Linked DNA regions of Homo sapiens: region 1 is linked to region 2. The links come from fine-mapping of genetic effects on gene expression. Tissue or cell type: whole blood. Region 2 holds a variant in brackets; the other region holds the start of a gene. All regions are shown on one strand. Distances are from middle to middle.

Region 1 (2,911 bases), 46 kb before region 2:
AACCTCCTCTAGCACACCCAGGTTCCCTCCATCAATCCACTCCTGGCACCCCCAAATCTACCCTGAGGATAAGGTAGCTCATGACTTGTCTCCTCCCTGAATCTGCGAGTGTCCTGGGATCACAGTGGCAGTGTGGCTGTATTTAAGTGACAAAAAGTGACCCGGAGCCTGGGCAACATGGTGAAATCCCGTCTCTACAAAAAATGCAAAAATTACCTGGGCATGGTGGCTCACACCTGTAATCCCAGCACTTTGAAAGGCCAAGGCAAGTGGATCACTTGAGCCCAGGAGTTCCAGGCCAGCCTGGGCAACACGGCAAAACTCTATCTCTACAAAAAATGCAAATAATTAGCCAGGCATGGTAGTGTGCACCTGTAGTGCCAGCTACTTGGGAGGCTGAGGTGTGAGAATAACTTGAGCCCAGGAGGCGGAGGTTGCTGTGAGCCAAGATCATGCTACTGCACTCCAGCCTGGGTGACAGAGCGAGACCCTGTCTCAAAAAAAAAAAAAAAAAAAAAAAAAAAAAAAGATGTGACTCAGAGTAGTAATTTAGCGTCTAGCCTCAGTTTCCCTATCCATAAAACAGGTACAATAATACCTGCCTCACTGAACGTGGGGATGAAATGAGGTAATACTCATTTAATGAGATAATTTTCATTGTTATTTGATAATGTCTCAATAAATTGGGCTACTCTGGCTGTTACGCGGAGTGTTATTACTTCTGTAACCTTAAGGTCTGGCATAGTGTGAGGCCCACAGTCTGTTTGAATGACTGGGAGAATGAGTGAATGAGTGAATGAATGGATAAGAAGCAGCCTCTGAGAGTAGAGATGCAGGAATCAGGCTACTTGGATTTGAATCCTGGCTGGGCCTCTTACAGGATCGGACACGTCACTGTACCTCTCTGTGCCTCATTTTCTCTATCTGTCAAGCGGGCTTAAGAGTACCTACCTGGCTCGTATGTTCGGGGGAGTTAGCACGGGGCTGGCACATTGGAAGTATTTGTTAAAGAAATGAATGAGGTGCACAAGCGGATAAAGCCACCCCCACCGTAAGCCTATGTGAGGCTTAAGCGTCCTCCCAGGACTCCCCTTTGGACACATAAAGACCCCGAGGTGGGACCTCACCTTGACAGTTTTCAGCACCCGCGGGGCAGCAGCACCGAGGCGGCCCCCGCGCTCCCTCAGGGCAGCGGCCAGGGCGCCCAGAGCGCGCCGCGCCTTCTCTACGAACTCCTTCCGCGGCTGCAGCCTTCTGGCCACGAACCTGTCCAGCGCAGCGGCCGGGGTGCTGTACAAGTCCATGGCCGCCCGGCGCAGGTGCAAGGGGAAGCAGGGCTCTGGCGCGGCCTTCGGATTTCTGGTTTCGTTTTCCCGCCCGGCTCTCCGAACCACGCCCAGCTGGCCAGGTCCTAGGTCCTCGGTCCCGCGCGTGGCGTGAAACGGGGAGGGGCGCTGCAGTTCCTGTCTTCCCCAAACTTGGGAAATTCCCTGCTTTCAGTTTCGTTTCTTTCTAGCAGCTCTTGGACCTGACACCCACTTCCTGGTCCCCTTCCCAGCTACGACTTCCTCTCCTTCATCTCCTTGCTTCCAGCCGTCCCTGCAACCACCAGCTCCAACGAACTAATCACAACCTAACAAAGTATACCCACAGAACATATGGGTACATACTGAGTAACGTACTCTGAGCATTTCAGAAACGTGCAGGTTTTACATGGAAAAAAAAGGTCAGGATTTAATAAACGGAGAAGTCCTACCTCGCTGTCTGACTGAGGGATGCGTTCTAAACACCACTACCACCACCAACGATAATAAAGCACACTTGGAGACTCTCACTGACTCCTCCCAACGACCATGGTGTAGGTGCTATTATCATCACCCATTTGACAGATGAGGAAGTCAAGGTACAGAGGAACTAGGTAACTGTCCAAGGTAACACAGCTGGAAAGTTGTCTGGCTGGATTCAAACCCAGCCCAAGCCCACAGAGCTGCCCTCTTCAGAAGCCAACTCTTCCTAAATAATTTATACGTGTAATGCAGTTCCAATAAAAATTCCATCTTTAAAAACTTCAAACACACGATCTAAAGTCTGTCTGCAAGAATTAAAAATTATTTTGGAGGAGAAGGAGGAAGGAAAGTCAGTCAGTTTAGGATGGTACCTTGCACAACAATACTACATATTAAAACATTGTAAAGCTACAATAGGGAAATCCTCTTGGAATGGGCACAAAGCTAAGCGGACTGTAAGCTATAAGCTGCAGAGTGGAGATTTGAATCCAGGACCATTGCGCTTCTATCTTCATGGCCTGTCTCCTTTTTCTGCTTATTTCCTGCTGCTTCTCCACCCGGGTTCCTAGAGACTGCACACCTGAGCTCTCTTCCAGGCCTGGTCCAAGCCATAGCCTATCTCCTCCTCCCCATCTTACTAAAAAACTCCCAGGTCCTCTCTCCTGTCTGCTCCGGGACCCAGCATTTACTCTGCCTCTGAGTACACTTCAGGTAATAGTCTTAACAAGTGCTTCCTGACATCTGCACGGTAACTGAAAGGAAATAGATAGGATCAGAGTGTGAATTTCAGAGGTCATGGTCAACTAGAGGGAGAGATGCTGGGTCTGTAATATGTACACCAGCTAATATTTTGAGTAGTGAATGCTGCATCACTTGGAATATTCAAGTATGGGCAGGTTTTGTAGGTCAGGTGTTGTGGTGGGGATTTAAGTCAAGGGATTGAGCAATGATTTTCATTCTCGCCCATTAATCACAGTCTTCTTCCTGAGTCACAGGCCACTTTAGAAACTTTCCATTCAAGATAGTGGATTGAACACATGCTCAAAATTCTATTAAAATAGCAGCAAAGATATATTAAAAGCATAATGGAAATCAACAGGGTTGGAAACTGAGAAAAAGTGGAG
Region 2 (2,911 bases):
TCTCCCCATAAGTCAAATTGATGGCCATGGCTGGTGGTGCCTGGCATTTTACCATCTATCCCACCTTAGGCTGCCCCCAATCCCTAGAGAGAGGCTGGGTGTATGCACAGAAAGGGGAAGATGCAAATCTGATTATTGTCACTCCACTTCTCAAAACTGTGTACTGGGTTCCTTTTAAACTCAGGGGAGAGTTCAAAATCCTTCATGTGGCCTTAAGACCGTGTGTGTTGGGTTTCTGCTCCATCCCAACCTAACCTTATGCCATCCTCCTCACCCCACTCCTTACTTCTCCTTTCCACCCAAGGGCCTTTGAGCAAACTGTTTCTTCTGCCTACAGGGCTCTTTTCCAGTGAGGCCCAGTGTCTGGCACATAGTAGGTACTCAATCAATATTTTCTGGGTGAGGCTGCGTATGGTGGCTCGTGCCTGTAATCTCTGCACTTTAGGAGGCCAAAGCGGGAGGATCACTTGAGCCCAGGAGTTCCAGACCGGCCTGGGCAACATAGCGAGAGCCTGTCTCTATAAAAAATAACAAAAATTATCTGGGCACAGTGATGTATGCCTTCAGTCCCAGGTACTCAGGAAGCTGAGGTGGAAGGATCTCTTGAGCCCCAGAGTTCGAGGCTGCAGTGAGCTATGATCACACCACTGCACTACAGCCTGGGCAATAGAGCGAGACCCTGTCTCTTAAAAAAGAGAGAGAGAACAAAACACAAACCAAACAAAACAAAATATTTCCTGGGTGAGTAAACACAATGGGCTAAACACTCCTAAGGGCTGGGACATTTGGATTCTGATTCAGGTTGTCACCAGCGGAGCAACTTTAAACATGAGCGTAACTTTACCGTGCCTCTGTTTCTTGACCTGTAAAGAGGGCGAACATTTCATTCTCATCTACAGAAGTGGTTTTGAGGATAATTTTTAAGAAGAGACAAAAATGAGGAATTAGAAGTTACCAAAGAGCTAAGCAAAAATAATGGGAAGTTCTGGCTTTTAAAAAATCTTTATTTGATCAGAAACTGCTTAGTGGTCTCCCATTTTTTCTCCCATAACTGCACCCAGCAGGTCAGCTGCTTCAGTAGTGACCACGGCAATTCTACTTCTTCTGGAAGGATTGGGTAGGTGGGGGAGGGGGTGGTAGAGAGAATTATTTAAGAAAACCAATCTGCACATGGCTGACCTCTAATGGAGTGCTGGACAGCACCCCTTGAGCTCATTTCCTCTCTTGGGTCATACGAGGAAATAAAATCAAATTACTCTTAGAAACCAAACTTGTCCCTGACCTGTGTGTTCTTTGTTAACTAAATCTTCATTCAAAGGAAATGTGAAAGACAGCCCACATGGATCTGTTCTTTGGCCATGGACTAAAGGGAAGTATTGCTTTCTGTTATCAGAGGCAGTGGAGGTGGGGGGAGTGTCTCCCAACTGGAGGGGATATTAGTAAATACTCTCTGCCATGAGTAAGGACAGTGATGGTGGTTATTTATAACCATAATGGCAGGTATTTATTAGCATTTACTGTGTACCAGACCCCTTGAAAATGTACCTCTCAGCCTGCATTCTCCAGTTGCAGGGGGTAAAA[C/T]TGATGAACAAGCTACTGGGCTCTGTATTCATGATGTTCTTGCTGAAGCCACGCTTCCCACAAGTGTTCTTAGCCAATAACTGACGCTAGCAGGGACACTAGGCAGCCCCATTTCTGGGAAATGCAGGACTCCTCTGATGGGTGACTGTGCTCAAGGATTCTCCATCACCTTGGATGAAATAGTGCAGCTTCCTTGGAGCTGCACTGTAGCCTAAGATTGTTTCTACCCAAACTTCCTTCCTTCTCTGCTCCACAGGGGTCATACCTGTAGCAAGGTCTGTGGTCTCTATGGGTCCCCTCTGGATTCCTCCTTATCTCCTCTACAGGCACACCTGTATCTTCTCTTGGTGTTTCCTTCTTGGAGGACCTGAACTAATATACAGTATTACAGTATTACTCTGTCCATTTTGCAGATGAGCACACTGAGGCCTAGAGATGTTAAGCTATGAGCCCCAGGTCACATAGCTAGAGCATACTGGAGACTCCATGCTCCATGGAGATCCACATCCACAGAAACATACATGTTGCTGCCCCAAGGCCAGCAGAATTCTACTGAGGTGCTAAACATTTCTGTACCAGGCTCGATTCTGTTTGCTTTCTTTGTGCTATCTCATTTGAGCCTTAAGCCCACCTTGGAGATAAGTGGAACTCTTGTCTCCATTTTACCAATGAAGAAACTGAATGAGAAGCTAAATAACTTGCTTAGAGTCCACAGCCAGCAGCTGGCAGAGATGAGAATAGGGCCTGATGTCTGACACAGCGGTGGCTATGAGATTGCACCTGGCAGACCTCCAGCTACAGGAAGCGTAACTGACCAAGGCCCTGGATGCAGTGCTTGGAAGTCCATGACATATTTGTGCCAAGGCCATGCTCCCAGCCAATGACTGGGCCTGGCAGGGATGCTAAGGTCGGCCCACTCCTATGAGATACAGGACATGTCTGATGGCCAGTTTTGGCTTGAGGACTCCCTGGTGGCCTTACTGAACTTGTATCTGGAATGCTTCCCTCCAACTTCTCTATCTAGTCCCCTCACTCAGGTCAGACTTGCATTGTAGTCTAACATCTCTCCCTTTCTCCCCTGACTCCCTGCAGACTTCCTGGAATGGGCATTTCCCCTGATAAACCCCTTGTCTGCTTAATCCTATTTTGGCATCTTCTTCTCAGAGGATCTGGACTAACACAGATAACAGAGTCCCTTTTATTCTCCATGATGAGATTGCTGGAACAGACCCCAGACTGAAGGCATGTTTTTTTTCTGAGCATTTCCAGAATGAATCTGGAAAATGCCAGATGGCCTCTTTGGTGGTGGAGGTCTGAGCGGTCCGAGGGG

Evidence for each region. PIP is the estimated chance that this variant, and not a neighbour inherited with it, causes the effect.
Region 1: OAS3 starts here. The variant in region 2 is the best candidate, but not a certain one, in a credible set for the expression of OAS3 in whole blood (TOPMed, PIP 0.87).

The regions. Positions count from the first base shown.
Region 1 is chr12:112,936,924-112,939,834 of GRCh38, reverse strand. OAS3 (2'-5'-oligoadenylate synthetase 3) reads right to left here and starts at 1,361. Exons shown (of 16, transcript NM_006187.4): 1 at 1,128-1,361. The coding sequence starts at 1,304. RefSeq lists enhancers at 643-812, 1,236-1,405, 1,369-1,678, 1,573-1,742 and a silencer at 1,059-1,148.
Region 2 is chr12:112,891,321-112,894,231 of GRCh38, reverse strand. The region is part of intron 19 of RPH3A (rabphilin 3A); the gene reads right to left. Among named protein-coding and RNA genes, the nearest start is that of OAS1, 14 kb to the left of the region's middle. The variant C/T (reference allele first, on the strand shown) is at 1,582.